7 linked regions of the Homo sapiens genome follow. The protein of the gene in region 5 interacts with the protein of the main gene of each other region in a biochemical or structural test. Each region holds a gene or a part of one and is shown on either strand. Other genes may lie near its edges.

Region 1 (3,500 bases), on a different chromosome or scaffold from region 5:
TGTATGGCTATAAAGTAAAAAGAATTTGTCTCACTGTATTATAGTCACATTTTACAAACATTATTCTGTCTGCAACTTCTAACTGTGCATCCCAATGTTACTTAGAATAGCTATGTAAGTATTTTTCTTTTTTTTTTTTTATTATACTTTAAGTTTTAGGGTACATGTGCACATTGTGCAGGTTAGTTACATATGTATACATGTGCCATGCTGGTGCGCTGCACCCACTAACTTAAGTATTTTTCTTATCCAACCTAAATGCATGGTTAGAGACAAATAAGTTTAATGCAAGAGTTTTAACAGATCTTTCCCAACATTTGCATATGAAGTTGCAACAATTAGTTATATTCCTAGCAAATTTATCCTGATTACAATTTAACATTAACTTGTAATATAAAAAAACATTTTTATGGATAAATTTTTAAAAACTCTTTAGACTAACTTATAAATTCACAAAAACTAATCTGACCTTGAAATTCACTAGGAACACTTAGAGAGAAAAAAAAAAATCTGGAACCCTCTGAAAAAGAGAGAAAAACCTAATCCTTGGCAGCCTACTGACATTAAAGAGAACGGTCTAAATTAAGAATAAACAAAAACAAGATGATAACTTATACTAATAAAACATAAACGTGCAAAAGTTTTTAAAAACCCAACCTACTGGCTGGGCATGGTGGCTCACGCCTGAAATCCCAACACTTTGGGAGGCCAAGGTGGGAAGATCGCTTGAGTCCAGCAGTTTGAGAGCAGTGTGGACAACAAAGTGGGTCCCTGTCTCTACAAAAAACCGACCTATTAAACATGCATTATCTATTTCTGTGAATAATCACTTTATTTTTTTTTTTATTTTTGAGACGGTCTCTCACTCTATTGCCCAGGCTGGAGTGCAGTGGTGCAATCTTGGCTAACTGCAACCTCCACCTCCCAGTTTCAGGTGATTCTCCTACCTCAGCCTCCTGAGTAGCTGGCATGACGGGTGCCTACCACCATGCCTGACTAATCTTTGTATTTTAGTAGAGACAGGGTTTCACCACATTGGCCAGGCTGGTCTCGAACTCTTGACCTCAGGTGATCCACCCGCCTCAGTCTCCCAAAGCTAAGATTACAGGCGTGAGCCACTGAGCCCGGCCAACCAGTTTACTCTTATGTCATTTCTTGAAATAGCAAACATGAATATTTACAGAACATTAATCAAATCAGTAAAACTAAAACCCAACAGCTATACCCTTCTTTCAAATTAAAGAGCATTGATTTTTCTTAAAATTTATTACTTCTAATTTTCAATGGACTGTTATAAAGTTAAAAATAAAACAGGACTAAGAACAAATCCCAAAGTCATACTAATCAAGTGATTTTGCTAACCTCTCTGCACATCTTTTTAAACTCTTAAAAAGAGTTTAAAAAATGTTTACGAAAATTCATTCTGCAGCTCCACAGAAGTGCTTCAAGTATTGTGTAAAGCTTGATCCAAAAAAAATTAATATATCTTAAATATGCACAAAAACAACAGATATGTTCAAATGTGTTATAATCCAAATTTTAACACATTTTAAAATGACCAACTCATCTTGTTGCCAAGCATTTGGTGATGACCATAAAGACCCTTTTCATATGTCTATTTTAGTAAGAGACATCAAAGACTACGAAGTGATTTGTTTAAAAAACCAGGTTGTAAATATAAAAATGTGCAACTCCAACTACATAAAAAAAAAAATTCTTGCTGGTATACAACCAAAATAAAATATGAAAATAAGCTGCAACTGTTACTCAGATTGCTGCACTCAAATTCATGGATTTATCCAACAGCAATTTTTCTCATTGACAACTTTGTAAGTGTTATATATTGGAGACCTGCATTAGAACTTTTTGATCTGAATACTTCAAAAGTCCTGTTCACTTCTATGCTTTGACAGGAATATAAGAAAATTAACCAACTGAAGTGTTTTTAAAGGAGCAAAACGCAGGGAGTCAAAGCAATTTATTTCTTCCCTAAATTGAAATGCCCTACATAAAATACTATTTGTGAATCCAATGAGAGAAAACACTTGAGTTTGGGCTCTCCTTGCATTCGCTAAAAAAATCACATGCAGGCCGGCACGGTGGCTCACGCCTGTAATCTCAGCACTCTGGAAGGTTGAGGCGGGCAGATCACCGGAGCTCAGGAGTTCGAGACCAGTCTGGCCAACATGGTGAAACCTTGTCTCTACTAAAAATCCCCATCTCTACTAAAAATACAAAACTAGCCAGGTGTAGTGGCACGTGCCTGTAGTCCCAGCTACTTGGGAAGCTGAGGCAGGAGAATGCTTGAACCCTGGAGGCGGAGGCTGCAGTGAGCAGACATCACGCCACTGCACTCCAGCCTGGATGACAGAGACTCTGTCTCAAAAAAAAAAAAAAAAAAATGGCTGGGCAAGGTGGCTTACGCCTGTAATCTCAGCACTTTGGGAGGCTGAGGCAGGCGAATAACTTGAGGCCAGGAGTTCGAGATCAGCCTGACCAACATGGTGAAATCCTGTTTCTACTAAAAATACAAAATTGGTCAGGCACAGTGGCGCATGCCTGTAATCCCAACTACTTGGGAGGCTGAGGCAGGAGAATCACTTGAACCCAGGAGGCAGAGGTTGCAGTGAGCCAAGATCACATCACTGCACTCCAGCCTGGGCAACAAGAGTGAAACTCCATCTCAAAAAAAAAAAAAAAAAAAAAAAAAATATATATATATATATATATCCCATGCAATTTGAATAGCCCAGTCTTCTCATAATCAACGACATTTATTATGATATATATTAATAATATTGTCAAATGGTATAGAGACATATTAATGCTAGAGAGACAGGAAATATAACAATTCTAATTATACCATGCCTTTTGACACCAGGGTTTCAGCATTTCATACCCATTCTTCCCATCACATTAATACCAGAGCATCTGACTGAAGGTAAAGATTCACTTTGTCTCAAATGCATTAATATTAAATTTGTACACTTCTGTACCTCAAACAAGGGCAAAATACAATAAAACTGAAAAAATAAAAACTGTTGTTCAAAGATAATATAAGCTCTATATCCACACAGAAGTTAAAAATGTTCATATGTCAGCATATATGTCATACTTGAGTGATTCAGGATTGTCTCACCACATGAGATACAAAAGCCCAGCCCATGGAAAAGTAGGGACCACTTTATATCTTCCTCCCAACAATTTAAAAGGATAGGTGGGAGGGAACAGATATTAGAAAGGATGCACTAAAGAAATATGCCATAAATATGCAAAGTATTTTTAACTGTCAAAATACTTTGTAAATGGATCTAAAAGCATTTACATATGTTCCTACTGTATAATAAAAGTACTTATTTAGTCAAGGCCAATTAAAAATCATCAGGTTATCTTCATCTTACTGTCTAGCACATAGCAGCATCACTAGTTGCTGTTTTTAAGTAAAGAAATGTTCAACTCTAAGCTAAATCGTTAAGCAAAACAAGAACCATTCTGGTATT
Region 2 (3,500 bases), on a different chromosome or scaffold from region 5:
TGCTCAGAAGATGATGATTGGACGGTGCAACCGAGCTGGGAAGCCTGTCATCTGTGCTACTCAGGCATGTGCCCACCCTTCCCCACATTCTCATGTGCACACTCGCATGTTTGTATGGGAAAGCTCTGGAGGCTGTCTGATCTCTTCCCATGGAATTGTCGCACGTAACACACAGATAATCCCCTTCCCCCATGTACCTACACAAAGCCATACTCTGTGTACCTACTCACTATCCAGAGGATCAGCTTGCTGTCATTTGTCTCTGAAGACAGCTCAAGCTACATCTCACTAATGCTCTGTCCCCTCCCAGATGCTGGAGAGCATGATCAAGAAGCCCCGCCCCACTCGGGCTGAAGGCAGTGATGTGGCCAATGCAGTCCTGGATGGAGCCGACTGCATCATGCTGTCTGGAGAAACAGCCAAAGGGGACTATCCTCTGGAGGCTGTGCGCATGCAGCACCTGGTGAGTTCTGGGGCCTGCCCCATCCCCCAGGGCTTCGGACTGGGCCTGGGATGGATGCAAGCTCTGGTGCAGAGCTTTTTAGGTTTCTCCATCCTCTTATGCACAGCCTTTCATTATCCTCCAAGTTACAGCAGCAAGAGGGTGGGGGTGGAAGTGGAGGTGGCTTTTTTTTTTCTCCTGTTCTGCATTCCTGCCCACACCCCCACCCCTCCATTTCCTTCTGCTCTGGAGGCATCCTCCTTCATTGGACACCACACAGTTTATTTCACTTCTGACTTCAAGGTTGTGAATTCTTCCCATGGCTTAAGTCCTGGGATACTTCTGCAGTGAAAGGAGGTCTTGTACCTCTTCCTCAGAGTCAGAAGTTCTGAGTACCTTTGCCCTATTCTGAAAAGGGCTAGGGGCTCCTGCTCCCAGCTGCCCTCTTCCTTTGGCTTCCAATTCAGTTCCCTCTGCCCCGCATCCTGCAGACAGGCGCTCCCGCAGGGGGCCCTTGTGGACCTGCACTGGAGTCTGTTGCCTTCACTGAGCTGCCTGTGCTGGCCTTGCATGGTGCCTGTAGGGGGATTTGCTTTGCTGTGCCATTGGGGTACAGCTGCTGCTCTTACTCTAGACCAAAAAGTCGGGTTGAGTGACTGGTGGCAGGGCCACAGATAGAGACAGCGGGGAGGGTGGCTGACCCTGGCGGCCCTGGACTGAGCGTCTGGAGGAGTCGTGGAGGCTCTTTCCCTTCTTTCTCCTCTGAGAGCTCGTTCTTCAGGCTCTTCCAGCTTGTCATGTCGAGTGCCTGGCCACTGCTCAGGGTTGGAGGCTCAGTCCCTTTGCCCTGTCTGTTCCAGCTCTGGAGCTAACTCAGGGATCCCTGATCAGGGTTACATAGGTTTGGTAAAATGAGTGCTGGAAATTAACTTTCTCCCAGTAGTCTTAGGTCATGCTCAGTGAACTTAAACTTTATCCAGATATGGTTTTCCTTCAGCCTTTCTATTCCCTTTCTAGCCAGTGAAAGACCCGCTGCCCTTTGACCTCAGCCCCTCCAAGCCCCCAAGTTTAAAACGCCACCCCCTGCCACCAGAAAAAACAGAAAAAAAAAAAAAAAAAAAAAACTAAAACACCCATCTGGTCTGGGCATCTTCCTTTCCTTTTTCACTATGTATCCTGTTACTGGGCTTAAACAGCTTTCAGAGAAGAGATGTCATTTCTATTAAATGCTCTTTCAGTAGCGAACTGAGTTCACACTTGACTAAGGATATTTTCCGGACTGTCTGTCATCAGCATCCTTAGTGGGTTTCCCCATATTTAAATTGGTAGAGGCCAGGGATGGTGGCTCACACCTGTAATCTCAGTACTTTGGGAGGCCAAGGTAGGTGGATTGCTTGAGCTCAGAAGACCAGCCTGGGCAACCTGGTGAAACCCTGTCTCTACTAAAAATTCAAGTTAGCTAGCTGGGCATGGTGATGCACTTCTGTAGTCCCAGCTACTTGGAGAGGGGGTGATGCTGGGGCAGCAGGATCGCTTGAACCCAGGAGGTTGAGGTTGCAGTGAGCCAAGATGGTACCAGCCTAGGTGACAAAGTGACACCCTGTCTCAAAAAAGAAACCAAACAAACATAAAAAAAAAAACAAAAAAATCGGTAGAGAGTGATTTCTCTCCCAGGCCCACTTAATGTAGACTGGGCCTGGCTGACACCTCACCATTCGTGTGATGTGATTGCTGTTCTGATGCTTAGATACTCTTGGCGCAGTCTCACAATTGCCACCATGGTAGGAAGGTGTCCCAGGAGACGGTGCACCTTGAACCAGTCACCACTAAAGTGGCTGCCTTTCTGGGTCTCTCCACACATCCCCTCTCTCTAATTTCCCTACTTAATCGTGTGACTTCATGGTCTCAAAGGAGGAACAGAGGCTGATCTTGACTTAGATATACTGAACCATGAAATCACTGCATAGAATGTGGGGACTTGAATGTGTCTTTGGGCAAGTCATTTAACCTCTTAAGACCTCATCTGTAAAATGGATTAGATATGTTTAATTATAGCCTTAGCATTAAATATTCATTGCTGTTATTATTAAGTGTCTGATAAGTCTCTGTGTACATGGATGTAATCTTCCTAACTCCCATTACCTCCATTTATAGATGAGGGTTATATGGCCAATAAAGCCTGGGTTTGAATCTAGGTCTACTGCCTCCAAAGCCAGTCTTCTCTCCTGCAACATCATGCTCTGTCTAGCAGGAGATGAGAACAGGTCTCCATTTGGAGCCTGTCAGTGGGGTCAGAGACTAAGATTCAGGCTCAGGGTCTAAATTCCATATCCTTTCTTCCATACCCTGGTGTTTCCTATGAACAGATAGATACTTTAGGGCTGCAAGGTTTGGATTGCATGGCACTGCTCAGAAGATAAGTTACAGGTCTGGGCTAGGCTGTAGCTGCCCCTCCAGGTGGCTAGACCTTTCCTTTCTGTGTCACCAGTTAACACTGGCCAACAGTTCCTTCCATTAACTGTTCACTGCTTTCTCCTGTGTCTAACTGATGCAGTTTATGACCCATAACTAAGAGCAGTACCAGGTATGGCTCTGTTTCCTGTTCATGTCCCCTGTCCTCTGGGCTGCATGCATTCCGTTCTTACAGAAAGAATACCTTTAACCTAGTACATCCTGCCACACATCTGCTTCTACTGTGAAATTGATGAGGGGGTATTACCGATTCTTCCCTCACCCATCATTTACTGAGATGCTGGTGATTGCATTATAATCCTCTAAAGCTTACATTGTCTTTCTGATTCTTGGTCTTATCTGAGCAAGTGATCTATAAATAACTCAGTGGCTTTCTCATGACTGTTTTAATTATTAGATTTTAATCAAGTGTCTTATTAAATATATCTGCATGCTTCCACAGGCATCTGTCTCTTCACATGGCTGTTCAGTGTGCCTCTCACAAGTTAGCCCACGTTTTCTGTTCTCCTGCTTCAAACTCAGTTGAGCTGCCTTGCTTTGGCTTTGATCCCAGCTTTCCAGCGCTGCTCAATCTGTTGCCATGGCA
Region 3 (3,500 bases), on a different chromosome or scaffold from region 5:
GGCACTGGGCAAGGGACGGCCGTGAGACAGGATGAATGGCACACTGCTGGCTGACCCATGCCATGCCAGGGAACAGGTGGGGGTCGGGGGATTCCTGCTGCGGGTAGGAACGGGGGGAGGGGGAAGCACCCAGAAAATCCCAGGGAAGCCTTCCAATATTGCTGCTGGCTGGGAGTAAGTGGTCACCTGGCTGGAGGAGACGCACATGTGTTAGGCCAAGAGTGAGCCTGCGTGACCATGCACTGAGTGGACAGTGGCCGCTGTGCTGGGGCAGTTGAAGATGGGGCCATTCCTGAGTAAGTCCGGTCCCAAACCCATCCTCCCCGGTGGGAAAGGGCCAGGGAGGCAAGGGTCACGCCCAGCAGCCTACAGGGAGGGGTTCAGCCCCAGAAGAGCCTTGCCCCATCCCACCCCACCTGGCCTCCCACTACACCCGCAGGTCCCTCAGGGAGTCCTCTGTCCTCTGCTCCAAAGTGCCTGCTTTGGTCTGATGGGAAGCAGCTTGCCAGGGAGGGACCTGGGAGGTTGTGGAGCCTGGCTAGACCTGGAGTGACTGCCTCCTCCCTGAAAACACACACACACACCCCATCACCACCACCACCACACACCTTGAGAAGGGAACCTCCAGCGGTGCCCTGCACATGTGCCCTGCACACCTGCCTGTCAGTTCTCAGGTTCTGCCTGGAGTTCCTCTCAAAGGAGAAGCAACAAGAGAGCCCTTCAACAGCACAGCAGAGACTATCCGGCTTCTCCTGCCCTTGTCTCCTGGGGACATGGTGCCTGGTGACTCAGTGGGCCAGAGTGGGGGTGGGGCTGGGGGCTCAGCACAGGGCACATGAAAGGGTCAGAGTGTGGTGCTGGGCCCATGTGCTTGCAGGCCTGGGAGCCTGGGGGGCTTCTGTGCCTGTTGGTGTGTATACGATGGTGTGGGTGTCACCTACACCCTGTGCACTGTGTCCCTTTAAGGCTCCCGCTGGCCCTCCCCGCCCCGCTCCCCAGGCCGTGGCTGGCGGGTTTCTATGGTGATGCAGCCCAAGTCCCAGAGGTGGGGGAAGCCAGAGGAAAGCCTTGTTATGTGTTATGTAGACAGCACATAAAGGGGGCTGCTCCAGGGAGCCCCCACAGGTACCTGGGGGCCCAGAAGTCCTTTATGACTGCTGCTTAGTCCCTGCACTCCCAACCTCACCCCTCCCTAAGAGGGTACCCTTAGGAGAGAGTGAGCCCTCAGCCCCCTCATCTCGCCTGAGGCTTCAGTCTCCAAGGCAACTACAACTCACCTGTAATGGACCATTCTCCTTAAAAGATGGGGAAAAGAGACGGAGGTTAACCCTTTGTGGGGTTCAGGGAGGACGGTCTTGACTACTGGGGAAGGGAGGGAGGAGCCCCACTCCATCCCCACAATCACATGCCTCTGTGGTCTGTTCTATTAAATCAACTTACAGCGTGGACTTACCACGTACCAGAAAGCCTCATGAGCACTTCCACTCACATCCACTCATCTCCTCCCCAGATTTGCCTCAGGGAGGGAGGTGCTATCATCATCCCCATTTTACAGATGAGGACACGGAGGCTCAGAAAACTGGAAACTGTGTCCAAGATCACAGAGCTGGCACTGGGTCTCAGCAGGGGTGGGGTTTTAGAGGGCGTGGTGGCTCCCTAAGCTGCCTCTCAGAGGCTCTGGCATCCCAACATGTGTGCCTGCTGGGCTTCCCAGGGAACCAGGGGCCTGGGCGAGGATGGCCTCCAAGCCATCCTGCCCCGTGGGGAGGGCTTACTTGCCAGGCAGATGGCAGGCAAATGTCGGGGGCAGGGAGTGACATCTTGGGATGGAGGCCATGCGGAAGTAGGATGTGATCAACATCACGTCTCAGCACAGAGCTGAAGCCCGACACCAAACAAACCCCCAAGTCCCCCATCCAGGTACTCAGTCCAAGAGAAGGCCAACTCCTTTCCCTTTTGGGCTTGGGGACAGGCTGGTTTCTTGGTCCCCTCTTCTGCTCTCTGGAATCTGGACTTGTTCTGATACCTTTCTTGCAACCAGAGGCTCCAGAACCCCTCCCAAAGAGGCCCCTCTCCAATCAGCATTTAGGGACAGCAGTGGCCCCATTCTTGTGTCGAAGGAGATACTGATGCCCAGCAGGCGGCAAGGCTTCAGCCTCCGAGACCCCTAGAAGGCGAGAGAAATGAGGTGGCAGCAAAACTAGGGCTCCTCTCAGGCCCCAGGCCTCCTCAGGGAGCTAGGATGACCCTAGCACTAGAGGGGGCTTCAGCGGCCAGGCCAGAAGGAACAGACTGCATCCAGTTCCTGGGGCTGTGGCCTGAAAAGGAGAGCAGGGAAGGAGCCCAGCCTGGGGCAGGGAGAGGCCCTGGCCCACAGCAGTCCTGGGATACCTAGCCTGTGTTGGTTTGCGGGGGGCGGGGTGGGGGTGCCTGGAAACAGCTCAGACACTGCCAGGCCCCACGGGCCCCCTCCAGGGGCCCCACTCCCGAGGGGTTAAAGGGCAGAGGGGGACACAGGAAGCCCGGGGGCGGACAATGGGGCCTCTGTGATCCCCAGGGCTTGGGCATTCCTAAGTCATGAACACAGACGCAGATGGCTGGGAGACAGGGCCACAGGGAACCCCCCTCCACTGAAGCACAGCCTGGGTTGGCCAGAGGCTCTGTCCCCATCCAGCCACTGCAGCAGCCACCCTCAGCCCCACCCCTTCCCAGCACAGGCCCTGTTGGGGCATCTGAGGAGACCCACGTGGCCTCATGACAATATGTGTGTGCATGCTGGTTCACGAACACACACACACATGCAACCAAATATATGACCCCACCCAGACAAACAGGAATACTGGAGGTTACACACACACAAATACACACACACAAGCAGAGACACAAACCCCATACATGCAGATAGGAAGTCTGCCTGGCTGGAGGGCAGGGGGCAGAGGGGCTCCCGGGACTCAGTCCCTTTCCCTCAAGTTCCACTCTCAGACCCGCACTGGGATGGACGGGTTCAGAAGTCCTCTTTGGCCAAGTGCATGGAGCCCAGGACGCTGCCACCCTCCTGCCCCACCCAACCCCTGGCCCTCGCAGCTGCCCCTGCTGGGTGTAAGGGCCAGAGATGAGCAGGAGCTGCTGACTGACAGTGGCTGGGCACTCCCTCTGCAGCTTTCCAACCTGGGAAGAACACGGGGACCTGGGCTGGGGGCCACTGGACAAAGAAAAGCTTCTAGAAAGAACAGCGGCCAGACCCTCCCCAGCTCCTCCCTCTTTTTCCAGCCACAGCCTTCAGGAAGCCACAAAGACCCTGTTGATATCTGGGGAAGAGGCAAGCTGGGCGGGCTACCTCCCCCAGTGCTCGTCTGGCTGCTGCTCACCAGGCACCCCCCATACAGCCTTCCACTCAGACAAGGCCCCCATGGGGGGTCTGGGCCCAACCCCAAGGCGTAGAGTCCAGCAGAAGGGTGCTGAGTGGCTGCTGGACAGGGCACAACCTCAGGGCCCTCAAG
Region 4 (3,500 bases), on a different chromosome or scaffold from region 5:
CTGTATAAATCCTTTCCTTCAAAATGTTTTTAAATGCTATTTATAATAGGATTTATTATGAACATTGTTTGAGTGTGCTTCTAAAGGTTTAGAAGCATTATCATTTTATCAAATATTAACAAAACACACCAAATGCTTTGTAAAGTTACTCTACACAGATGTAATATGTTATAATAATATTATTACTAAAGCATGACTATAACAGTGATACAAAGTTAAATTTCTATTGGAAATACGGAATGATATTGGGAATAGCATTAATGATTTTAGATATTTGGGAGATGGGGGATGTGATTGTGAATATTTATGTAAACATGTGCATTCAAAAATGAGAAAGAAAGAAAGAAGGAAATTGTATATGTGTGGAATGATGGATACAAAAGGGACAACATGGAGTTGATACAGGAGAGATTTGATTGTATATTTCCTCCAATTTACTCATGGTGCTAGATTGTTAGAGGCTTTTAATTCCATTCCCTGGAAAATTATCTGGTTTTGAACATGCAGATATATTGTATATTAATGAAAAAATACATGGCAGAATAAAAGATTAAAGTCTCATAAGTGTATGTGTTTATATGCTAACTTTTAAGATGTTGAGATAAAAAGGCTTTATAAATATTTGTTTTAATAGAAATACTACTGCTTTGCTTAAATAAATAGTTTCTGATAATTAGCTCATTCTCTCTTTAAACAAAGACCCATTTAGATGCATTTAACATGTATTTCAATACAGTGTACACTCTGTGTATATATTATGTACAAGTTGCATGTAATGTATTTTAAATATGGGGAAGATGAAATAATATATGTGAAAGTGTTATTATTGTATTACATATTGCTGGGTTTCTTCTTAAAACTTCCAGGATAAAAATGATATAGTGCCTGAGAATTAAAAGATTTTATAACCTTAAGAAAATTATCTTTAACTGAAAGCTTAAAAATACACTTTACATATGTCATTCTATTTAACATTATAAAGAATGCAGGAGATGTAAGAGATGAGACTAGATGAATGAATTATTTTTCACGTGAGTAACTTTGGTATTGATCTTCTAAATCTTACCGTAATTATGACCTAATATTAAGAACACTGTTATGATCATAATTTCCAAAGTAATGTCAGCAGTGATTTCACAATGCCTTGTTTTCTGGAGCAGATTCAATGAGTCTCACAGTTCAGTTTCCTGCCCTCCTCCCCAAAACATCACAGGCCTATTGATTTTGCTATGACAAATCTCAGTAACTCATTCAGGAATTCTACGTAATTTTTTAAACCCATGTGCCTTAAATCACAAATATATAAATTTCTGAAAACATTTCTCTGACATTGATTTTTTTTAATTTCAGTAATTTTCTGACCTTTATCATCGGGAGTCACGCATATTAAATTTGATGGAAACTTACAATTCTCCTTATGGATGCCAAGGCAGTATTTCTAAGCCAAACTGTGGAAGGCCAAGCTTGTCTTGTAGATGGTATATAGTCAATGACTGTTTGCTAAATTTGACTGCCTTCTTTGATCCTCTCACTACCTCTCTTTTCTCTTGTCAGGACACCCCATGCATACACAAGTATGGACAGGTGTCTTAGTACTCTCCTGCTACTGTGGCCTTCTCCTGCTTGAGAAGGCACGGGGTGGACGGGTGGCTCAGTGTAAATAAATTCACATTAAAGTGCTACAGACAGTGTGTTATTTTTCTTAAGGTGTTCCCATTTAAGAGGGTCAAAAGAAGAGGAGAATGCTTAACAGAAGGAATTATTCTCTTTGTGGAATTTCAGCATTGACACCTAGGCTGAAGAAGGCAAGAATGTCTTGGTGTCTCTCAGCTTATACACACAGTCTATTCCACTTATGCATTATGATGTAAGCTTACTTCCGTAAAAAAAAACATATTTCTAGATTTTTGACTTAGTCCTCTGCAGATTTCTTAATATAATAGGGCTCTACTGATAGTGGTTGATACAACTATACACATTTTTCCTTTTTCTCTCTTTTGTTAATGAATAAAATATAGAAAAGCACAGATATTCCATGTATTCAGAAGCTTTCAACAACGCATCTGAAAATCCCCAGACAAAAATATTTTAAAACTGAAGTTTCTCTACTTGCATCCACAAAGTAACAGATATGCTGTGCCAAGTTATGAAATCTGAATCTTGAAATATTCAGTTTAGCAGTCTTCACTGATTAAATTAGCAACAGAAATTTTCCACTTGATTTTTCTGCATAGTAGATATAGATTCTGATTTATCTAGGCTTGGGGGACTGTCTAATGACTCCACATGACCCCAAAATTGGTAGTGAATTTAGATTTTTTTAAAAAGCAGTAACATCGACGATTCTATTAACCAAAATATGTGCTTGGAATTTTCATATTTTATGTAAACGCTTTGACAAAGCCTTAAACTTTTCTTCCCTAAACTGACAACTACTTGATTGCCTATTCTTCAATGGCCCAAGGTAAGTCAACAGAAGCACTGTATTGACATTAAACTTGAAGGCGTATAAATTAAACCAAACCATTTGTTTCCATGCAATAGTTGGGTCATCTATCTTGCCTTGTTCATATTTCTTCATTTTTCCACAGTATTTCCTCATAATAAGGATTTATATACAATGAGCTTGATTTCATTTTCTGTGTTCAAAACTTGGGATAATTATTGTGTAAGAGAAGCTAAGAGTATATTAATTGGTCCATGTAAACTAAACAAATTATGTTTGAAAGTCCATGGCCATGGTGCACTTCTCATGGTGAAACCAGAAAACATTTGCAATTTGCAAAAAAAAAAAAAAAGTTTACTGTCAAATAATAGTTTGCGAAACACATATGATTATCTGTTCTATCAGACAAATACTACAGAATATTATTAGGTTTAAAATAACTTGTTAGAATGCAGTTTCATGGCAAAGCTTTGACTTTTCTGAAGTATCAGGGTTGTAACAAAAAGAATAGGTTTTCTATCATCACTAACTCACATACAGTAGAAATAGAAGATGAGATCAAACTGAGGTATCCTCTGTGGCCCTTGATCCAGCCCTCTCAGCCTCTCTTAGGAGATTTAAACACATTTCCTCACATACTCTAAGAAAGGCCATGGCCAACACCTTAGTTTACACGAATGTCAGGAAACATCAACTACTGCCTTCAAAGAGGTAAATGACCAATTGTAATTAGCAAGTTTCTGTTTCTCTTTTACAGCTAGGTAATGGCAGAGATCCATGTTAAATTCCCAAATTACATGCAAATTCTGCATTGATCAAAGGTAGTAAAAATTTTATGAAGTAGTATTAGACACTCCAGATATCACAAAGCAGAAAATTACTATGATTTGAATATTTGCTATGCTTTCTTCTGGGGAAAAAAAAAAAAACTCTATGGAAGACAAACAACACAAAAGTAACCAAAATATCATGCTTAGTGAGATAGGTATCTTATATTGGGTACATGATTTATGGCATGAATGAAAGCAAGTCATGTGAAAGACACAGAAACTAA
Region 5 (3,500 bases):
TTGATTACATGTTCAAATGATAATATTTTGGAAATATAGTTACATTAAATAAAATCTAAACAAACAAGTTAATTAAAAAACAAATATTGGCCAGGCGCGGTGGCTCACGCCTGTAATCCCAGCACTTTGGGAGGCTGAGGTGGGCAAATCACGAGGTCAAGAGGTCGACACCATCCTGGCCAACATGGTGAAACCCCGTCTCTACTAAAAGTACAAAAATTAGCTGCGTGCAGTGGCGCGCGCCTGTAGTCCCAGCTACTCAGGAGGCTGAGGCAGGAGAATTGCTTGAACCCGGGAGGCAGAGGTTGCAGTGAGCCGAGATTGCGCCACTGCACTCCAGCCTGGCAACAAAGTGAGACTCCGTCTCAAAAAAAAAAATTTTTTTTACCTATTTCTTTCTTTTAACTTAATTTCCAATGTGGCTTCTAGAAAATCTGAACATATACATAACTCATGTTATAATGTTATATTTCTTTCTTCCTTTCTTTTTTTCTTTGAGATGGAGTCTTGCTCTGTCACTCAGGCTGGAGTTGCAGTGGCGCAATCTTGGCTCAACCACCGCCTCCCGGGTTCAAACGATTCTCCTGCCTCCCAAGTAGCTGGGATTACAGACATGAGCCACCAAGCCCGGCTAATTTTTTTATTTTTAGTAGAAATAGGGTTTCACCATGTTGGCCAGGCTGGTCTTGAACTCCTGACCTCAGGTGATCCACCTGCCTTGGCCTCCCAAAGGGCTGGGATTACAGGCATGAGCCACTGTGCCTGGCTTTTTTTTTTTTTTTTTTTTTAAACAGGGTCTTCCTCTGTCCCCCAGGCTGGAATGCAGTGGTGCAATCACAGCTTATTGCAGCCTCTGCCTCCTAGGCTCAAGTGATCCTCCCACCTCAGCCTCCTGAATAGCCGGGACTACCAGTAAGCACGAGCATACTCATCTAATTTGTGTATTTTTTGGTAGACACAGGGTCTCACCATGTTGTCCAGGCTCATCTCCATCTCATGGGCTCAAGCAATCCGCCTGCCTTGGCCTCCCAAAGTGCTGGGATTACAGGCATGAGCCACTGTGACCAGCTGCTCATGTTCTATTTCTATAGGGCGCCACAGCTCGAAGCAACATCCATGCCTCTGTGCAAGACTTTCTTCATGCCATTCCTTGTTCTGCAACAGGCCAGCCCTTCCCTTTTCTCTGAACCCCACCTTAAGAAGCTGTTTCTTCCATAAGACTTTCTTGGGCCTTCTAGCTGGAGAATTTCATTCCTCCAAATTTGCAAACCACATTACTAGCCCCTCTCACATAGCACTTAGGTCATATTATATGATTGTTATTTATGTTCTTCATTCTCTTCTCTCCCCACGAAACTGCAGGCTCCTTCAGAACAGGGTCTGTGCCTCCCTAACCTTTGCTAACACCCTCGGCACCTAGCATGTACACAGGAGATGCCAACATGTTTGTTAACTGGATGAATGAGTAAGTGAATGAAGGAAAAAAAAGGGCTGATGAAAAGAAACTGACAGAGATACTCCTCCAGAAAAAGAGGCTGAGAATATCAGAGAAAAGCAATTAGGTAGTACCCCTTGTTAACCAGCCAAACTCTAGTCCAAAGAACCCTGAGAAAATTTCTGGACAACTTGGTTCTTCAGAATTGAGGAAGTAACACCAAAACATTAATCCCTTCAGATGAGAATAAGACTTATTTCTTCCCCAAAGTGACCATTCTCTACTCACATGTTGAGAGGGCAGGGGGCAAGTACTTAATAAACATATGGAGAAAGTTACTCAGCTCAGCTTGCTAAATTTTAGTTGGTCCAATGGAAATGCTAATTTTTTGAGTCTCTTTAAAAAAAAAAAGTGTCTAAATGTCCTTGGAAGTAAGAGACATATAAAAAATTAGCAATAAGTGGTCAGGCACAATGGCTCACACCTGTAATCCCAGCATTTTGGGAGGCCGAGGCCAGCGGATTGCTTGAGGTCAGGAGTTCAAGCCCAGCCTGGCCAACATGGTGAAACACCATCTCTATTAAAAACACAAAAAATTAGCCGGACATGGTGGCGCATGCTTGCAATCCCAGCTACTAGGGAGGCTGGGGCAGGAGAATCGCTTCAACCGGAAGGCGGAGGTTGCAGTGACCTGAGATAGCGCCACAGCACTCCAGCCTGGGCGACAGAGCGAGACTATCTCAAAAAAAAAAAAAAAAAAAAAAAGCAACAAGTGAAACACGAACTGCTGCACATAATCTAGAAAACCTTGCTCTTGAAGACAGGATGTACTATGAGTGGAACCCCACCAAATTCTTGGGATAGTTCATCCATGTGAGGGCTATTAAATGGGGGAGAGGGCCCTAAACATGGTTTCTTTCATTGCAGGGGAGAGATAAATGGTGGCGAGGAGAGAATTTCTGTTTAAAGTAGATGCAACCTTAGGAGGAAAAACAAATATCCTAGCCCAAGTCTGACATTTCATCCTCTCTGGAAACACCAGAATCTTCTCTAAAGCTCTGCATCTGGGCTCCCACTAGTCCCTGGTGCGTTCAGGCCTTTTACAAAGCTCTGGGGAAGACAAATGTAAGACACAAATTTCCCAGGAGGAAATTAAACTATCAAGTGATGTGAGGCCCTTTCAGAATAAGACATTTGAATCAATTCTAACTCCTTTTCCTCCAGCAGCAACAGGCTCAAACTTTGCTAGGATGTTCTATAACTAACAGCCATTTTGACGAAAGACACTTTAGAAACGAAGGCAAGAAAAAAGCCTTTGTAGAAGCCGGCTGCTAAACCCCCAAGTTCATACCAGCAAATCTCTCATTTTAGGAGTCTTGTTTCAGGTCAATACTGAAAACAAAGAGCACACCACTAAAAGCAAAACCCATGGATTTTCCTTGGTCTCTAAGGCTTGAATCTGCCTACCCAGTGTTCAATTCAATTTTCTTGCCCTCTGGAGTCCACCAGGAATAAAGCTAGCCCAGCCTGAGGGATGCACCGATGTATCTAATCCTCTGCCCCTAGGGAGTGGGGGACGCTTCTCCATTTCTTCCTGAGCCTTTGCTTCCCTTGCTATCAAAGGGCCACCTAATGGAACTGTCTAACACCCTCCATGGCCAGAGGCCAAGGAAAAGAAGCACCCTAAGATTGTTCAAGTGGTGCCCACTCTGGCCTGAATTCCCATTGGGAAAAATACCTCGAAAATGAGCATTTCTGCAGGCATGTTTGGAAAAGCAGGCAGTGAAGTACGCAGTCCAAGTGGCTCTCAATCTGGATGAACCTCATTAAAAAGCTGACACTCAGCTATGACTAAGAGTAAATGCAACAGATATTTCAAGCAGCTCGTCACTGATGCAGTTCATAACCCTCCCAGCTGGAGTCAGGCCCCAGCAGCCTCCCGGTCCCCAAACACCCTGCACTCGGAGGGTCGGGGCAGCCCCGGAGCTTCTCCTAACCCACTGGGGGTAGGATATGTAAACAAGTCATTAGGGAGGCAGGCCATCGGCAAAGACGGCCGGCAATA
Region 6 (3,474 bases), on a different chromosome or scaffold from region 5:
GCACCTGGGGTGGCCAAGATGACCAGGGCAGAAGGTGTTGGCTCAGGGGCCAGGGCCATAGACTCCAGAGCTACTGCAGTTGGGACTCGCTGTGACAACACTTTCCAATGTGTGTCCTGACACTGCCGCCCCACCAGACCTGGTTCCACAGGCCCCTCCCCCAGGGCCGCTTCCACCCCATGAAGGGTGGGGAGGAAGCCGACTCCGAAGCTGCTTTGTTGAGGAGGTGACTTCTAAAGGGAGCTGTAAGGGCGGGGCGGGCACTTTCTCATGGGCATTTTCTGGAGGAGGGCGTTCCAGGCAGTGAAGGTGTGGCCTGAGCAGTACAGATGGCTTGGAGAGTTGAGGGGGCTTCCGGAAGCCGGAGGAGGCTCAACCTCTGGATGACAGCCCCCCTGGGAGCAGATGGCACCTGGGCTGCTGCTCTGTGGGTGGAGCTAAGGTGCCTGGGGGATGCCTGCGCATCATGGGAGTCCTCAGAAGCCATGAACTGGGCTGATTTGCTTTTTTAGGAAGCCCCTTTAACATGCACTAGCAGAGTGCAACACATGGTAAGTGCCCAGGACACTGACTGGTGAACGAAGGACTGAATGTCAGATGGGTGGGTGGATGGATGGATGGATGGGTGGATGGATGGATGGATAGATGGGTGGGTGGATGGATGGATGGATGGGTGGATGGATGGATGGATGGATGGGTGGATGGGTGGATGGATGGATGGGTGGATGGCTGGATGGATGGATGGGTGGATGGATGGATAGGTGGATGGATGGATAGGTGGATGGATGGATGGGTGGATGGCTGGATGGATGGATGGGTGGATGGGTGGATGGATGGATGGATGGATGGATGGATGGATGGATGGGTGGATGGGTGGATGGGTGGATGGGTGGATGGCTGGTTGGATGGATGGGTGGATGGATGGATAGGTGGATGGATGGATGGGTGGATGGCTGGATGGATGGGTGGATTGCTGGATGGATTGGTGGATGGGTTGATGGGTGGATGGGTGGATGGGTGGATGGGTGAAAGGATGGAAGGAAGGAGGGAGCATGGACGGATGGACATGTGAATGGGCAGATGGACAGATGAACGGTTGGAAGGATGGATGGAAAGAAGGATGAGAGAAAGGAAAGAAGGAAGGAAGGAGAGGTGTATGGACAGATGGGTGAAGAGAATAAAGGAAGGGGAAAGAAGGAAGGAAGATGGATGGATGGCTTGACAAACAGATGGACTGGAGGTAGGAGAGGCTGGAGCAGTGATCCAGGTGGGAAGTGATGAGCCTGCCTTTTAAGGCGTGCTCTCAGGGATGAGGCAGAGGGAGGTGAGGTGTGTGGGCTGAAGAGATGCAGGGGCGTGGTCTGAGGACTAGGGATGGACTGAATAGCAGGAGGGGTCTACCATGACTCCCAGCCCACTCTGGGTGAGAGTGAGTGGCTGGTGGGGCGATGATTAAGATGGGGAGTCGGGGAGCTGCTGAGTTCGGTTCGAGTGTCTGAGTCAGCAGGATGTTGGGGGAGGGTGGTCTATACCTCAGAAGGGAGGTCAGGGCCAGACCAGGAGTGTCAGGGTGCAGTGCTCACTGGCCCACAGTGAGATGAGCTGGCCTGAGGGCAAGCATGCTGCCGGCAAAGTCCAGGGAGCCCCGTGGTGGGACAGCACTCCTAGGCAAGCTGGCCGCACGCAGGACTGTGGTATCAGGTGGCAGGTGGCAGGTGACGGAGTTGGCATCCAGGCTACTATGCCTCCCAGGTTGTCTGCAGGGCAATGGGAACTTCTCCACTGGGCACTCTGGAAAGTTCCACACCCTCCAGCCAGACTGCTTGGCTAAGCATCCCTGGTGGGGCTAGGAGCCTCTGTCCACCCTTCTCAAAGCCAGGCTGTGAGTTCTCAGGCACGGAAGCCCCAGGTGGGCTCTGAACCACTGGGACCCCCTCATGTCATGCTTTATTCTGTCTCTCCAAATCCTGGCTCCCCTATGGCAGAAGCTGGCACCATGAGGGCCCCTGCTCCCAGACACAGCTTCCAGGACACTGACTGATGAATGGACTGAATGTCAGATGGATAGGTGTATGGATGGATGGGTGAGTGGGTGGGTGGATGGATGGGTGAGTGGGTGGGTGGATAGGTGGATGGGTGAGTGGATGAGTGGATGGGTGGATAGGTGGATGGATGGATGGATGGATGGATGGATAGGTGGATGGGTGGATGGGTGGATGGGTAAATGGGTGGATGGGTGGATGGGTGGATGGATGGATGGATAGGTGGATGGTGGATGGGTAAATGGAAGGATGGGTGGATGGGTGGATGGATGGATGGATAGGTGGATGGATGGATGGGTGGATGGGTGGATGAGTGGATGGATGGATGGGTGGATGGGTGGATGAGTGGATGGGTGAATGGGTGGATGGGTGGATGGGTGAGTGGATGGGAGGAAGGAGGGAGTAGCCTCTGGACCAGAGAAAATGAAGGGGCGCATCCCGGCTTTCTGGACCTTCCTTTAGCAAAACGGCTAAAAATCTGTGATGAAATCATCAGCTTCTGCGAGAGGGAGCTGCGGGATGTGTCCTCTGTGAGCAGGACTGAGCAGAGAGCTCACTGCAGGGAGATTGTCCTTGGGCCGCGTCAGCCAGGCTACTCATGGATGGAAAACCTCTCATTGCCCAAGGAAGTATCAGCCAAATTGCATGTAATGACTAGTTGGAGGTAGCAAATTTCCCTGTGACATGTATTTTACTCTGTGTATTCCCCACCCCTACCCCTTATGAAGAGGGGCGCTGCCATACCCACAGAGTAAGGAGACCCTTTTTGGTTACACGGAGGCCCAGGCAGTAGATAGACTGGGTCCCAAGCCAGGGCTCCAAGGCTCCTGTGTGCCCGGGACATGGGCGCCATCCCCCTTCCCCTCCTAGGCTTCAGCTCTCGCCTTTCCACCCTTGGAGAGAGCCGGTGGAGCTGGGCCAGCGTCCTCCTCTCCATGCTCCCAGGAGAGCTCTGGCTGCCCCAAGGAACACTCCCAGGTTGTCTTGGGTCCATTTATTTTGGTGGAAATTTGGAGAACAATCACTTCCCTGCTCTCAGCTACTCTCAAGGGAGGGTGGTAGTGATGACAAGGATGGGGGAAACCTTTGCTAACCTGGCATTCTCCAGATCCCAGGTCCCCCAGGGCCAGGCTCCAGGTCACTCGCGGAGCAGCCTCTAACAGACACAGCCAAAGATCACTGGGCGTGGAGCCCTGGGCCAGGGTCTGGTCCTAGCTTGGGTCCCGTGTACCCTTGGCAAAGCATTCTACTGCCCACATCCCCCGTCCCCTGGCTTGATGTGCAGGCCAGACCGCTACTCCGTCAGCGCCCACCCACGTGACAGCCTGGACTCACCGAAGCATAGAGTCGTCCCCTCTTGTTCATGGCCAGGTACCGCCCGGAGAAGAGACCCCTGATGGCCACAATGCCCACCTCCACTGCCGTTATCTCC
Region 7 (3,500 bases), on a different chromosome or scaffold from region 5:
TTGTTCTCCCAATAAGTCAGTACCCCTTGTTCTTTGGATGCACCAAGTTTTTGCACTTGCTGGTCCCTCTGTCAGGGACACTGTTCCCTGGCTCTTCAAATGGTGACAGCTCCCTCCTATCATTCAAGTCTCTGCTGAAGAATTACCTTCTGAGAAAGGCCTTCCCACACCACACTATTCAAAGCAGACCCTCTCTCTATCCTAGTCACTCTGCCCCATTACTGTTTTATTTTATTCATAGCACCTACTTATGATTGCCTGGCTTTATCTTCTATCCCTTAGCTTGTTTATTATTATTATTGTTTATGACTGTTATTATGATCTTTTGTGATTTTCTGTCTCCCCTCCCATCTCAAATTTAGTTCCAAAAGAACAGAAGTCTTTTCTGTTCTATGAACCACTGCATCCTCAGCACCTAGATTAGCCCTTGGCATAGAATAGATGATCAGTTAATTGTTGTTGAATGAATGAATAAATATTAATACTTATTGAGAGATAAGTATGGAAATGTAGTGTTGGACAAAACATGGTCCCTGCCTTCAAGGGGCTCATATTTGAATCTCCTGACTTCTCCAGCTTTTGACTTCACAGCAGCTGGCACCAGAACTCTTGTTTCCACTTTTAATTAACTCCCACCACCATGTCCAGTATCTCTAAAAACAAACAAAATGATGAAGGCCCTTTCATAGTTTTCGGGGCCTTTCTTACACAACCCTCCAGTGGGACACCCTCATGATATGATACAGGGTTCAGTGTGGGTAGGGTTGTCTGCATTTGATAAAGGAAACAGCTGGCCTGAAGCCCAGATCATGGGGCAGTGGGGCCCAGCATGACACTCACCAAATGACCACACATCGGACTTGCTGCTATAGCGACTGAAAGAGAAAACCTCTGGGGATGCCCACTTCACCGGGAATTTGGTGCCTGTGGAACTGGTGTACTGATCATCCAGAACGAACCTGGGAAGAGAGTGGAGGGAGAAGGTCAGAATGTTCCGGGGGCCTCAGTCCCATTCCTGAGACTTCACCGGCACCACATCCCTCTTTTACCTTGTCATCCCAAAGTCAGACACCTTGATGACTTGGTTTTCTCCCACCAAACAATTTCTGGCAGCCTGGAGAGGAGACAGGCAAACAAAGGCGGAGAGGAAAACTGTTGATGAGTCATCAGTAGTTAAGGAGTCTCCTATAATCACAGTCCTTTGCTTTACTGCAGTGCTGTCATACAAGGGCATCATGGAGCTTTACAAATGTTAATTAAGCCTCACAAATGCCGCTGGAAGTTAACTGGAAAGTTGAATGTGTAAGATCCACTATCAAGATGAGTAAGTTTATCTTCATTCTTGAGTTCTAATTAGAAATCCTTGGTGTTGTCTAACCAAAGATAGGCTCTAATGCAACCTGATGTGATAGGAAATGTTAACATCAGGGATAACAGGAAGAAAGCATCTCCCAGTTGACTAAATTAAGAATGTTTTGATGTTGTTAATCCTCTTAAAACTGTTCTTCAATAGGGAGAGTACCTGACCCCTAATTAGTATTATAGACTGTTGCATTGAAAAAGCCATTGGAGATAACACTCCAGTGTGTCTCAATTTTTTTTTTTTTTTTTTTTTTAGATGGAGTCTTACTGTGTCACCCAGGCTGGAGTGTAGTGGCTTGATCTCAGCTCACTGCAACCTCTGCCTCCTGGGTTCAAGTGATTCTCCTGCCTCAGCCTCCCAAGTAGCTAGGGTTACAGGTGCCCGCCAGTAAGCTCAGCTAATTTTTTGAATTTTCAGTAGAGATGGGGTTTCACCATGTTGGCCAGGGTGGTCTCGAACTCCTGACCTCGTGATTCGCCCACCTCGGCCTCCCAAAGTGCTGGGAGTACAGGCATGAGCCACCGCACCCAGCTGCATATCTCAAATTTTAATGTGCATACAAATCATACGGGGAATGTGTTAAAATGAATATTCCTGAGTCCCAGCCACCAGAGATTCTGAGAGTAGCTTAAGGGCTTCCCCAGTGTGATTCTGGTAGACCCTTGAATAATACCTTCAGACAAACTCAGTTTCCTCAATTTACCAGGAGGAAATTGAGTCACAGAGAGGTTAAGAAGGAGTGGCAGTTATCTCCATTTTGGAAGAATATAAACTGAAATGCAGGAGGTGAAAGAGTTTGGGCTGGGATCAGAGCCCAGAAGTAAGTCCTCATGAAGCCCTTTCCACTAGGACCACCCAAAGTAGGTGAAGGAAGGGAGAAGTTGAGAAAGGAAAGGAGATTATCTGTAATGTATTATTTATTAATGCGTTCCCAGTCATTTCAGTGAGAACTGTCCCTTTACCCTGGACCTGTGGGTGTTCACCCTGCATGCTCATACCAAGTCTCTGTGGATGACACATGCCTCTTCCAGGTAGGCCATGCCCTCACACACATCCAGACACATGCCCAGCAGGGTCTCTGCAGCAAAAAGTCCCCGCTGGGTGCGTAGATAATCTGACAGGCAGCCGTGCTCCATGAACTCAAACACCAGGCAGATGGGGGCCTGCTCCAGGCACACCCCATACAGCTGCACCAGTTTGGGATGAGAGAGTTTCCTGGAGGAAAAAGACAAGGGGTGAGATGGCCTAAACTCAGTCTCCCAAAAATGCCGAAAATATTATGGTACCAAAATAGCCAATGGTCATTTTGTCTAATTTATGGTTTGGATGAAAATAATATTCATTCCCTCCCCAAAACAAAAACATGTCATTGGAGCTGAGACCTGAAAAATGGCAAGGAGTCAGCTGTGTGTGTGAAGATGAGCAGAGGCCAGTGTGGCTGGCATGTCATGGACTGGAGGAGAGATGGGTAGGAGCTGAGAAGGGGGAGGTGGGCATGATCAGATTATGGTGGGCCTTGGAGACCACTGTGAAGAGTTTGATTGTATTCTCTGTGCAATAGGAAGCCACTGCTGGGAGTTTGCGCAGGGAGATAGTACCCCCTGGCGTTTGAATGGCATTTCAAGAACACTGAACCGATGTTCCCCCCAGAGTTTCTGCATATCCTTGTTCTGAGCACTCACATCATTACTTCAGCCTCCTCTATGAAGTCCTCTTCTGACATAGCCCCTTCCCGAATGGTTTTGATAGCCACCTTGTCCTTGTTGAGCCAGTAGCCCAGATGCACCAACCCAAATTGCCCACTGCCAATCTCTTGCACAAAAGTGAGCTCTGAGGGGTCGATCACCCATTTCCCTGGAAGAGAGAGAGAGAGTTCTCTGGGGTCAGCAAGCAGTAGATATAAGGTATTGGGATACCAGGGGACTATAAAGCCCTAACTAGAATTTTAGCCTATTGTTAATATAATTCAAAGATGGCAAATAAATTATCTTTTTCCCACATAATAACATAGGATATGCTAGAAAACTATGAAAATATGTGTGGGAAGGTAACATGGAAAGAAGGAGAGTGGCATTAATGAAGATATTAAAGAAACCATATTAATCAAAATATTAAAGAAAGGGTTCTTGCAATGTCC

Evidence for each region.
Region 1: the proteins of FGFR1 (region 5) and ZMYM2 form a complex in vitro, tested with the Homo sapiens proteins (one study listed by BioGRID).
Region 2: the proteins of FGFR1 (region 5) and PKM form a complex in vitro, tested with the Homo sapiens proteins (one study listed by BioGRID).
Region 3: the proteins of FGFR1 (region 5) and L1CAM form a complex in vitro, tested with the Homo sapiens proteins (one study listed by BioGRID).
Region 4: the proteins of FGFR1 (region 5) and FGF5 interact in a test that uses a peptide from one of them, tested with the Homo sapiens proteins (one study listed by BioGRID).
Region 6: the proteins of FGFR1 (region 5) and FGF3 interact in a test that uses a peptide from one of them, tested with the Homo sapiens proteins (one study listed by BioGRID).
Region 7: the proteins of FGFR1 (region 5) and ITK interact in a test that uses a peptide from one of them, tested with the Homo sapiens proteins (one study listed by BioGRID).

The regions. Positions count from the first base shown.
Region 1 is NC_000013.11:19,961,727-19,965,226, reverse strand, and holds part of ZMYM2 (zinc finger MYM-type protein 2), read right to left. Parts: intron 8-3,500; coding exon of another isoform or gene 1-7. UniProt on the Homo sapiens protein: Involved in the negative regulation of transcription.
Region 2 is NC_000015.10:72,203,691-72,207,190, reverse strand, and holds part of PKM (pyruvate kinase PKM), read left to right. Parts: coding exon 1-64; intron 65-310; coding exon 311-463; intron 464-3,500. UniProt on the Homo sapiens protein: Catalyzes the final rate-limiting step of glycolysis by mediating the transfer of a phosphoryl group from phosphoenolpyruvate (PEP) to ADP, generating ATP.
Region 3 is NC_000023.11:153,879,674-153,883,173, forward strand, and holds part of L1CAM (neural cell adhesion molecule L1 isoform 1 precursor), read right to left. Parts: intron 1,046-3,500; exon of another isoform or gene 999-1,045; intron 1-998. UniProt on the Homo sapiens protein: Neural cell adhesion molecule involved in the dynamics of cell adhesion and in the generation of transmembrane signals at tyrosine kinase receptors.
Region 4 is NC_000004.12:80,269,664-80,273,163, reverse strand, and holds part of FGF5 (fibroblast growth factor 5 isoform 1 precursor), read right to left. Parts: intron 1-3,500. UniProt on the Homo sapiens protein: Plays an important role in the regulation of cell proliferation and cell differentiation. Required for normal regulation of the hair growth cycle.
Region 5 is NC_000008.11:38,462,136-38,465,635, forward strand, and holds part of FGFR1 (fibroblast growth factor receptor 1 isoform 1 precursor), read right to left. Parts: intron 1-3,500. UniProt on the Homo sapiens protein: Tyrosine-protein kinase that acts as a cell-surface receptor for fibroblast growth factors and plays an essential role in the regulation of embryonic development, cell proliferation, differentiation and migration.
Region 6 is NC_000011.10:69,812,943-69,816,416, forward strand, and holds part of FGF3 (fibroblast growth factor 3 precursor), read right to left. Parts: coding exon 3,378-3,474; intron 1-3,377. UniProt on the Homo sapiens protein: Plays an important role in the regulation of embryonic development, cell proliferation, and cell differentiation. Required for normal ear development.
Region 7 is NC_000005.10:157,243,340-157,246,839, reverse strand, and holds part of ITK (tyrosine-protein kinase ITK/TSK), read right to left. Parts: intron 3,218-3,500; coding exon 3,046-3,217; intron 2,579-3,045; coding exon 2,362-2,578; intron 1,115-2,361; coding exon 1,050-1,114; intron 960-1,049; coding exon 841-959; intron 1-840. UniProt on the Homo sapiens protein: Tyrosine kinase that plays an essential role in regulation of the adaptive immune response. Regulates the development, function and differentiation of conventional T-cells and nonconventional NKT-cells.